Regions from separate parts of the Homo sapiens genome. Here region 1 is linked to region 2. Evidence: fine-mapped expression QTL. Tissue or cell type: sun-exposed skin. Region 2 holds a variant in brackets; the other region holds the start of a gene. All regions are shown on one strand. Distances are from middle to middle.

The links. PIP is the estimated chance that this variant, and not a neighbour inherited with it, causes the effect.
Region 1: it holds the start of TPH1, and the variant in region 2 is fine-mapped to the expression of TPH1 in sun-exposed skin (GTEx, PIP above 0.99). The same link has a PIP of 0.9 or more in cerebellum, lung, sigmoid colon, skeletal muscle, subcutaneous fat and tibial nerve.

Annotation. Positions count from the first base shown.
Region 1 is chr11:18,043,356-18,048,396 of GRCh38, reverse strand. TPH1 (tryptophan hydroxylase 1) reads left to right here and starts at 2,128. Exons shown (of 11, transcript NM_004179.3): 1 at 2,128-2,156.
Region 2 is chr11:17,946,635-17,951,675 of GRCh38, reverse strand. The region is part of intron 9 of SERGEF (secretion regulating guanine nucleotide exchange factor); the gene reads left to right. Among named protein-coding and RNA genes, the nearest start is that of SERGEF, 64 kb to the left of the region's middle. The variant G/A (reference allele first, on the strand shown) is at 2,426.

The DNA of each region.
Region 1 (5,041 bases), 97 kb before region 2:
TGTCAATAATGAGTTCACTGTAGGTGTGTGGATCCGTTTCTGGGTTCTCTATTTTGTTCCATTGGTCTATGTGTCTGTTTTTATGCCAGAACCATGCTGTTTTGGTTACTGTAGCTCTGCAGTATAATTTGAAGTCAGGTAATGTGATTCCTCCAGTTTTGTGCTTTTTGCTCAGGATAGCTTTGGCTGTTCTGGGTCTTTTGTGATTCCATATAAATTTTAGGGTTGTTTTTTCTATTTCTGTAAGGAAAGTCTTTGGTATTTTGATAGGGATTGCCTTGAATCTGTAGATTGCTTTGGGTAGCATGGACATTTGAACAATAAGGATTCTTCCGATCCATGAACTTGGAATAGCCTTCTGTTCTTTTGGTGTCCTCTTTAATTTCTTTCATGAGTATTTTATAGTTTTCATTGTAGAGATCTTTCACTCCTTTGGTTAATTCCTAGGTACTTATTTTATTTGTGGCTATTGTAAATGGGATTAATTTCTTTTTCATACTGTTCACCATTGGCATACAGAAACGCTATTGATTTTTGTATGTTGATTTTGTATCCTGCAACATTAGTGAATTATTTAATCAGTTCAAATAGTTTTTTGGTGGAGTCTTTAGGTTTTTCCAAATATAGGATCATATCATCTGCAAACAAGGATAATTTGACTTCTTCCTTTCCAGTTTGGATGCCCTTTATTTCTTCTCTTGTCTGATTGCTCTAGCTAGAACTTCCAGTACTATGTTGAATAATAGTGGTGAAATTGGGCATCCTTATCGTGTTCCAGATCTACAAGGAAAGGCTTTCAGTTTAGGAAAGACATCTTTGACCTCAGCTTGGTTCTGAAAGGTCTCTCCCTGACCAGTATTTTTTATGGCATTGAAGTAAGAGCACTGGATTTAAACTCAGACACTTTTGCTTGATTATTGATGGTACTTACTAGCCTGTGCCAGAATAACGTCTTAGAGCCACCCCTGTGCTTCAATTTCCGTATCTGTAAAATACAAATAATATGTACCTCATAGAAGCATTATACAGATAAAAGAAAAATGCATAGAAAAGCTGTAAAGATCCTGAGCTTTAAAGTACATCCATACTCAGCAAAAAAGAAAACAGGAAAGAAAAGGAACAAATCACTAATACCTGCATGAAACTCAAAAGCATTATGTTAAGTGCCAGGAGCCAAAAATCTGTACATATTTCATGATTTCATTTCTGTGACATTCCAGAGAAGGCAAAACTGTGGAGACAGAAATCAGATCAGTGGCTGCCAGGGGCTGGGTGTGAGGTGAGAGACTTTAGACAAGGGAAATTTCTCGCAGTGATAGAAATGTTCTATATTTTGATCGTTTGGTGGTTACACAACTATACATGTTTGTCAAAACTCAGAATTGTACACCTCACAGGGTGAATATTACTGTATGTTAATTATACATCAATAAATCTTACTTTTCAAACATTGGAGGAAAGAATGTCCTATAATATACTTCGTTATGTGTACAGTCCTTTGGGATAAGGAGCTAATCGACTGACTACTCAACCAGTAAATACCTATTCCAAATTTTTTGCCTCTATGTCCTGTTGTTCACAATAGCACGTAATATGATTTTTTGCTAATATAGAATGCTTCTCTGCTTGCAGCTTAAAATTTTTTTTTAATTAGAAGGGCACTGAACACTTCTCTTCTAAAAAGTTCAACTAACTGTTGCTCTGCCTCAAGGAATGGGGGAAAGCACCAAGAGAATAATAAGTCAGGACTGGGCTATTAAATAGCCCAGAAGCACAGAGAGGTGTGGGAGGTGGGGGGATTCTTGCTTTGGTCTCCAACAGGCGAGAAGCACTGCAGTCCTATAGCAGGTCATTGTGTCGATAATAGGCGTTATCTTGGTTTGGAGAGAATGTCCAACTCTGGATTGTTCAGTGTTAGTCAGACTTGTGTGGTTAAGGACGGCCTAACATTCACTTAATTAAAACACCAGTCAGATACACGCAGAGATTGAGGCGTGCAAGTCTCTGGGAGCAGGCGGACGCGACTGCCCACGCCCCACACCCGCCGGCCCTCCCTTCTCATTGGCCGCTGCCCAGCTGCTCCGACGCCCGCTTCTATAAGAGACAGGCAGCGCGGGGCCGCCGGCCGACCCAGCCTGCACCTACTGGCGCCCGAGGTGAGTGAGGCGGCCCTTCCCGCGGGCACCGGGGACCGCCGTCGAGGCTTTGGCGGCGCTTGGCAGGCGCGGGGCTGGGCAGAGTCACCCTCCCGGGAGGTAAATTGGTGGTCTTGCGGAGTCAGATTTGGGAGGTCGGAGTTGTACCCCTATAAACGCTTACTATTCTTTCCTCCCACGCTGTTTGGGGAGAAAAGACACTTTCTGAGTGCCTCCTGTGTGCCAGGAACAGACTCTTTAGCCATCATGAGATTTCACCTTCATGACAAACTCTGGTAGATATTTCTTGAGTCCCCAGATGAGGAAAGTGGGGTCCAGAGTCCAACCCAAGTCTGTGTGACTCCTCTATGTTGGCAGAAACAGTAAGATTTTTCTTCCTTCCCTTCCTCTCCATCAAAGGGCAATGTCTCTTTTTTTCTTCTCCTCCCATGAAGGGAAGCTTCCCTTAAACAGCCTCCCGAAGAAGAAGGAGTCTCAGATGCAAAGCTTCTCAGCATCGCACTTACCATCATCACCACCATCCCAACAGACGACTGAGAGCTTTTTGCAAGGTCGCAATTGACAAAGAGGACTAGGTCCTTGCGGTTTAGAGTCAGTTAAGAGTCCGTGTGAACTCAACCTTGCCTTTGGCGTTTGATTTTCAGAGGTTTAAAATGAACTTCTCATTGATGTCCCACTCTACTTGACTTAGCAGGAAAAAGACTAGAGTTGAACTTGCTAACCCAGGAAAAGTTTGTGCCTGTTAGTTAAAAAAAAAAGGGGGGGGTGGAATTCTAATATCAATGTTTCTGTAAAGTTATAATCTGTGGTTTACATATGTTATCACTGAGGTCCATTTGTACATGTATTATTAGATTATCTCCAGATAGGGATGTGTCTTCTATTTCCATTTTCTCTGCCAGTGCCTTTATTTCCTAGAATACTGTTTTTCATGGATAGTGTTTTCTTTTGTATTTCATCTACACTTTCATCCTCATTCCCACTCCTTATTTAGAAAAGAAAATCAAGACTCCGTAGAGGATTCCCTCCCTCTGAAAGAATCCTCCTTGCAGTTTTTAGTTCTGTCTTCAAACAATATCCATGCTTTCAAAAGACTAATTCAGTAGTGCTTTGTGCTTCCTAGATCCGGTAAATATAAATTACACTTGTTTTACTGATTAAACTAAGGGAAGAAAAGAGTTGGTCATTGTATACGCCTTGACCTCTCCCAAGGGTCGGGTCTGTTGATCTTCTGAGTGTCTTCTTGGTATTTTTTCCTTATTTCCAGTGGTATGTCCTACACAGTGCATCCTTAGGCCAGGAGACGCAGTAGGAAAATGACTCTACCTTTCATGAGAAAAGGGTACCAGTTGGTATTAGCTGATCAGAGAGTTGCTTTAAAAATAAAATGCTTATGTATTGATGAGACACTGATTCAAACAAGTGTGACCTATTTTATCTTACCAGGTTAGTATTGTGTTTTTTTGTTTTGTTTTGTTTTGTTTTGTTTTCCTGAAAGAGTAGGAGGAGGTGGGTAGGTTGAAAGGGGAAAGGAAAAAGTAACAAGGCAAAATATTGAGGTTCTGAAAGCGGTTTGGGGTTAACTGGAGGAAAAAATAACTGATGCCTCATAAGCTCTGTCAACCAAGCAAAGTTATGGCCAAGTTTTAGTAACGATCAAAGATCTATGTCCTGTAAGATTATTTTGGGGTGGGGGGGAACAAAAAAGAGGGTGAGAATTTTCTTCTAGTTTTCTAGTTTCTTAGCAAAAGTTCCTTTTGAGAACCTTCATTTTTACCATGACTTAAACAAGGAGGAGTGTTTCCACATCTTTTTTTTTGAGACGCAGTCTTGCTCTGTCACCTGGGCTGGAGTGCAGTGGCGTGATCCTGGCTCACTGCAACCTCCGCCTCCCAGGTTCAAGCCATTCTCCTACCTCAGCCTCCCAAGTAGCTGGGACTACAGGCGCCCGCCACCACACCCAGCCAATTTTTGTATTTTTAGTAGAGACGGGGTTTCACCATGTTGGCCAGGATGGTCTCGCTCTCTTGACCTCATGATTCGCCCGCCTCGGCCTCCTAAAGTGCTGGGAATTACAGGTGTGAGCCACTTACATCTTAATATAATAATGTATGTCTTTAAATACATCAAAATAATATAAATGCCTTGCATATCATAAATTTCAATTAATGTATCCTTCACCCTCCTCTCCCCACACCAACTAAGGAGATGTTGGCACAAAACTTGATCCATTCCAGAATCAGGTAAAGAAAATAATTATGAACCCTAAAGGGATGGAGCCATGACTGTTAGCACCTTCTCACAATAGCAACTTCCAGGAAAGCTTAGGGACCAGTTTTGAAAATTGAAGGAAATTCTCTTTTTTTTTTTTTTAAGAGACAGGGTTTCACTCTGTCACCCAGGCTGGACTGCAGTGGCGCGATCATGGATCACTGCAGCCTAGAACTCCTGAGCTCAAGCAAGCCTCCTGCCTCAGCCTCCCTAGTAGCTGGGACTGCAGGTGAAAGCCACTATGCCCAGCTAACTTAAACAATTTTTTTTGTTGTTGTTGTTCATACAGCATCTCACTATGTTACCCAGGCTCTTCATAATAGTTTTTGTTGTTGTTGTTGTTTGTTTGTTTTTGTTTTTGTTTTTTGAGACGGAGTCTCACTCTACTGCCCTGCCAGAGTGCAGCGACACGATCTTGCTCCCTGCAACCTCTGCCTCCTGAGTTCAAACGATTTTCATGCCTCAGCCTCCCGAGTAGCTGGGATTACATGCATGTGTCATCATGCCAGGCTAATTTTTGTATTTTTAGTAGAGACGGGGTTTCACCATGTTGGCCAGGCTGGTCTTCAACTCCTGACCTCAAGTGATCCACCCACTTTGGCTTTCCAATGTGC
Region 2 (5,041 bases):
GACAGTTCTCATCAGGGTGTGACCCTGGGCTCTGGCTTTGGGTATCACTGGATGGTAGTCAGGTCTAATGGAGACTTGGTGGCCCTTTACAGGCTCTGCCTCAGTGTCATATCAGGAAAAGCAACAAGGAAAGGAATAGCCTCAGTAAGTATTGGGACAGTAAGTTAATTCATGCTTCTAGTAAACTCGTGCTGGCTGGAGTTGGAGGTCTGATGGACAGAGTCTTAAACGTAGAGCGTGACTTGGGTTGGACTTTCTGTTCTGTTTGTACAATCTGTATGATTTTGGGTCATTCAAAACCTTTCCAAGCCTTAGCTTTCTCATTCACAAAGTGCACATAATAATATCTGCTTTATCTTGCCCATAGAGTTATAGAAAAATGCAGATAGTATATATAAGGGCGTTTGTAGACTGTAATGTGCTGTACATGTACAAAAAAAGTTGTTTTTTAGGTTCATGACATATGAGCTGCTTCGGGTACAGGTTTTGTTAAAAGTATGGGTCAGAGCTGCTGTTTTGTCTTAATCGCTTGAGATCTTAGGAGCTACCTAGAACCACCATGGATCTTGTAAACACTTCTTAGAACTAGAACCAGTGAAGATAGTGGAGCCTAGATGCTTGATAATCCAGCCAATCTCCCTGCAGCATCAGAGTATGAATTCCTGTTGAGGCAGCCATCAGCATTGACAGCAAGGATATCTCTGGCTTGCTTTTTTTTCAGCAGCAGAGGAAATTCATCAGCACTGATTTAAAGTCCTAGTGACCTCATATGTTACTACCATGCTCTGCAGAGGTACAACCGCCCCAGGCTTTGCCCAGGGTCACCCTGGAGCTGACCAGCTGTCTTTTGTTGCATTTGACCTTGAAAACTGGGCTGTCCCAGGGTGAAAGTAAATCATGCAGAGGTTTAGAGTGAAAACAGAAGGCAATGAGGATTTAAAGGAGGCTTCAGTGGTCTGCTGAGAGCAATTCTAGGTCTGTGAAGGCTGAATGAGCTGCACATGAATTGGCTTGTCAGGGGACTAAAACTACCTCCATTTCTACCACTATTCTTCTAGTTTGGACCCTCATTATCTAGTGCCTAATACAGTGACAGCTTCTTAGTTGGTAAGCCCTTGTCTCTAGTTTGGTTTCACCCCAGTTGCCCACAACCAGTTGCCAAAGTGATGTACTGAAATAGAAATCTGATTGCACTATGCTCTTTTTCTTTAGACTCTTAGAAAATACAGAAAACATTTATTCCCATAATACACACTTATTAGATAGCGACTTTCTATGTGAAAGAAACTTAGCCAAGCATTTAAGATATAGTGGAGATTAAGACCCAGCCTCTATTCTCAATGGGTAGGAGAAACACACAACCCATAAACTGCACAGCCAGTGTGCAAAGAATGGAGTCATTAGAGTGTAAGCTCCAGGACTGTTGTTGGCCTTGTTCACCACTGTCTCCTCATCACCTTGCATAGCACCCAGCACACAGCAGGTGCTGAGCAAATGATTGTTATAGGGATGAATGTGTGCCCTTACTTTCTGACGGCTTCCTATCCTGAATGAAGTCTAAAATCTCTGGATTTTCATAAGAAGCTCTTCTTGATCCAGCTTCTGTCAAAATACCCAGCCTCACCTTCTACCAGTCTCTCCCTGTATTCTGCAGTTTATCTATGCCTAACCAATAATGCATCAGGTTTTTTGATACTTCTGGGTCTTTGCATGCTGGTTCTGCTTCCCTTTGCCTTTGGCTCCTTGGACAACTACTACCTATTTCTCAGTAGCTAACAAGGATGATGTCTTATAATCATCTTGGTATTCCTGCCACCTAGTCTTACAAACATGCCTCTTCTTACTTTCTCTGTTGAGTTTTTCTTTGCGTAGTGTCATTATCCACCTTCCTTGGCTCTGTTGAGCAGCTGTCCCTGAAGCACTTTTCCACCCTCCCTTTACCTCCCCTGCCCTTGGGTTTAGGCCTGGAATTTGTTGGGCTGTTGGTGGCCTGGCTCTGGGATGTGATGAGCCCTGACCTCCCTTTTGCCTTTCCTAAACACTTTCTCCCTCCTGCTTTGGCCACATCCAGACAGCTAGATCTCTCTCCCAGTTCTACTTGCACAAAAACCCTATGCTGAGCAGGGTATGGGTTTTGCCAGTCCCATTGCGCAGGGATTGGACTCAGTGTCCTGGATCCTTAGTCACTGTTTGGGACTTTGTTCTGAGTGGCTCATTCCCCTATATAAGGCCATCTGCTTGATTCCAAGGGTTGCTGTTCCTTGGAGCTTCTTGCTTGGAAGCTTTCTGACCAATGGGACCTCCTTGTTGTTTACACTGACCTGAATTAAGCCTCTCTTTGCCAGGCTCCATTGGGTACTTTATATTGGATAGCTGCCTTAGGAGCGAGCCCTGTAGTTCCCCATCTTCCCCAAAGATGACTGCC[G/A]TCTGGCTCCAGCCTCTTCTTTGCCTGAAATGTCCTGAACCACTGAGGCCTTGCCTGGTAGGCACCTCTTGAGGTAGATAAAGAGAAAACATTCCTCTTGTCACTTTCAGGGAAGCAAAACCACACCATTCCCTTGGGATGCAGCCTTTAGACCCCCAAGATCCCCAGCCAGTTGTTAGAGGGACTGGTGAATTGTGACTAGAAGGGGGAGGTTAATCTTTGTATGGTTACATAATTCCCTTTGTGATATAGTGGTTCTGTCTGTGGGGACACTGCCAGTGGTGGCCACCACCTCCTGCATCTGAAGATTACTGTTTGGAAGAGAGCTCTTTTTACTGGATGTCTGGTGTCATCCAAGACTCAGGGAGACTGGCTATGGGTAGCAGAAATGGAAGGAATCAGAGATATCTTTGCAAAAGGAGCAACTGCTACAATAATTAATTGTGAGGCCTCTGGCTTTTCAGAGGAACCAGAAGTATAAGTGGAAAGCAAAGTAGGAGGTAGAGTGGGGTCCCACTCACAGGTGCTGGGAGGCTACTGTGGCTCCCACAGGGGCCTCCCCATGTGCCACTTCAGGAGACCCAGCTGGCTAGGGAAGGTTGCTCATGGCTGCTGAACAAAATGTTTATGTCACTGTAAGCAGCACTCCCAAGACTGGCTGAGGAAAGTCCCTCGCTTCAAAAAGGTGATTCAGTAATTTTTTAGTTTCTTCTCTGTGGTTTTATTTCACTGTGGTCCCCACTGATAAGATTTCTTATTAATTACGTGGGGAGCATGCATATCATTTGACGATCGGGTCTGCACGAGGGAGCAACAAATAGGGGAAGGACTTGGAAGAATCAAGAGACTACACTGCGGCTTGATCTTTGGACAGCTGCTTTTACTTCTCTGAGTCTCAGATTTTGCATCTGTCAAATAGATATAATAATTCTTATTGGATTTAGCTTTGTAAGTTGTCAGAATGATGTCAGGGATGTGAAAGCATTTTATCAACTATGAAGCAATAAACAAATGTACGTTTTGTTTATAGATTTCTTACATTGGTTTTTCGGAAACGAATTTCTTGTAGCACTTTGGGAGGCTGAGGCAGGTGGATCACATGAAACCAGCCTGGGCAACATGGCAAAACCCTGTCTCTACAAAAAACACAAACATTAGGCATGGCGATGTGTACCTGTAGTCCTAGCCTCTTGGGAGGCTGAGCTGGGAAATGGAGGTTGCAGTTAGCTGAGATTGTGCTACTGTACTCCAGCCTGGGTGATAGAACAAGACTCCGTCTCAGAAAAAAAAAAAAAAAAAAGAATGGATTAGGAACAATTGGATTTTTTAAAAGAGGTAATAATAATGTTAGTTCCTGTTTGTCGAACATTGACTACATGCCATGTATTATGCTAAGCACTTTATAAGCATCACTTTTAATTCTTAACACATTCCCATGAAGCAGTATAATAATTTATCCTTATTTTGTAGATGAGGGAACCAAAACCTGGGGAGGTAACTTATTTAAGGACAAAGCTGGGAAATACCAGAGCTAACATAGTGGCAGCAGTGTGGACTAGAGGACATACAGGTGACTGGATGGTGGTTTTCCAGGTTGAAGGGCAAAGAGGTGACTGTGGCTTGGTGCTCACCCCAACTCCTAGAAGTCCAGATGTGCCAGTCTTCTGGCAGAGCCTGTAACAGCTCATTCTTCCCTCCCTTGGTGTCTGGGCACAAACTAGTGGAGGTAAACAGAGCCACCCAAGAGGCTTTCCTTCCCTAGAAACCACCACTTTAAAGCTGGTACAGTAAAGCATGCCTTTGAAGACTTGAGAAAAGATGTTTTAATTCCTCATGATTCTTTCTTGGGTTTGTGTTCTGTTTCTGTTTACAGTGGCGGGAAGTATGAGTTTTGGAGTATCTCATTCCTAGCCCCCTTACCTGCACATCCAAAATGTACCACTTTACAAGGCTCAGATTAGAGCTTGCCCAGTGGAATCTTTTCTGGACAACTTCAGTTGCCATTTCAAGTATGAGCTACTTGAGGATAGGCACCATATCTTGATTGTGGCTGTAACTTTAGTGCATGACACAGTGCCTATCAGAAAGCAAATGGTTGGGATTTGTTATTGAATTGAACGGAAATCTTAACTCAGAGTTTGAATCACCTATTAGTATTTGATTGTATTGTAACATCTGATTATCCCATGTGTGGTGGTCTTCCAGAGGAAAGTATATGTTGCTACTGAGTGGGCACTGTATCTTAAGATTTTTTGTGTGTCTTACCCTGTTAGGCAGGGAATGAGGGGCTAAGTCACATAGCAGGCACTTGGAGAAGCCTTGGGGGCTCCATCTCCATCTACTCTGAAGCAGGCTTGGAGAGATCTGTCATGAGATAGCTGTATTGGTTGCTAACAGAGTTATAATGTATTAGTTCTGGAGGGAGAGAAACAAAAACAGAATGCTGACTCCTCCAGTAGTCTCAGCATGAGGGGCATAGAAATATAGGCATCTTTTTCAATCTGCATTGCTCCATTCCTCAGACACCTATTTTAGGGTGAGAACACAGAGGCGTGCAAATGGTGCATTTCCCTTTGCACCCCTCAAGGTGAAATTTCTGCTGTTGCATGGGGACTT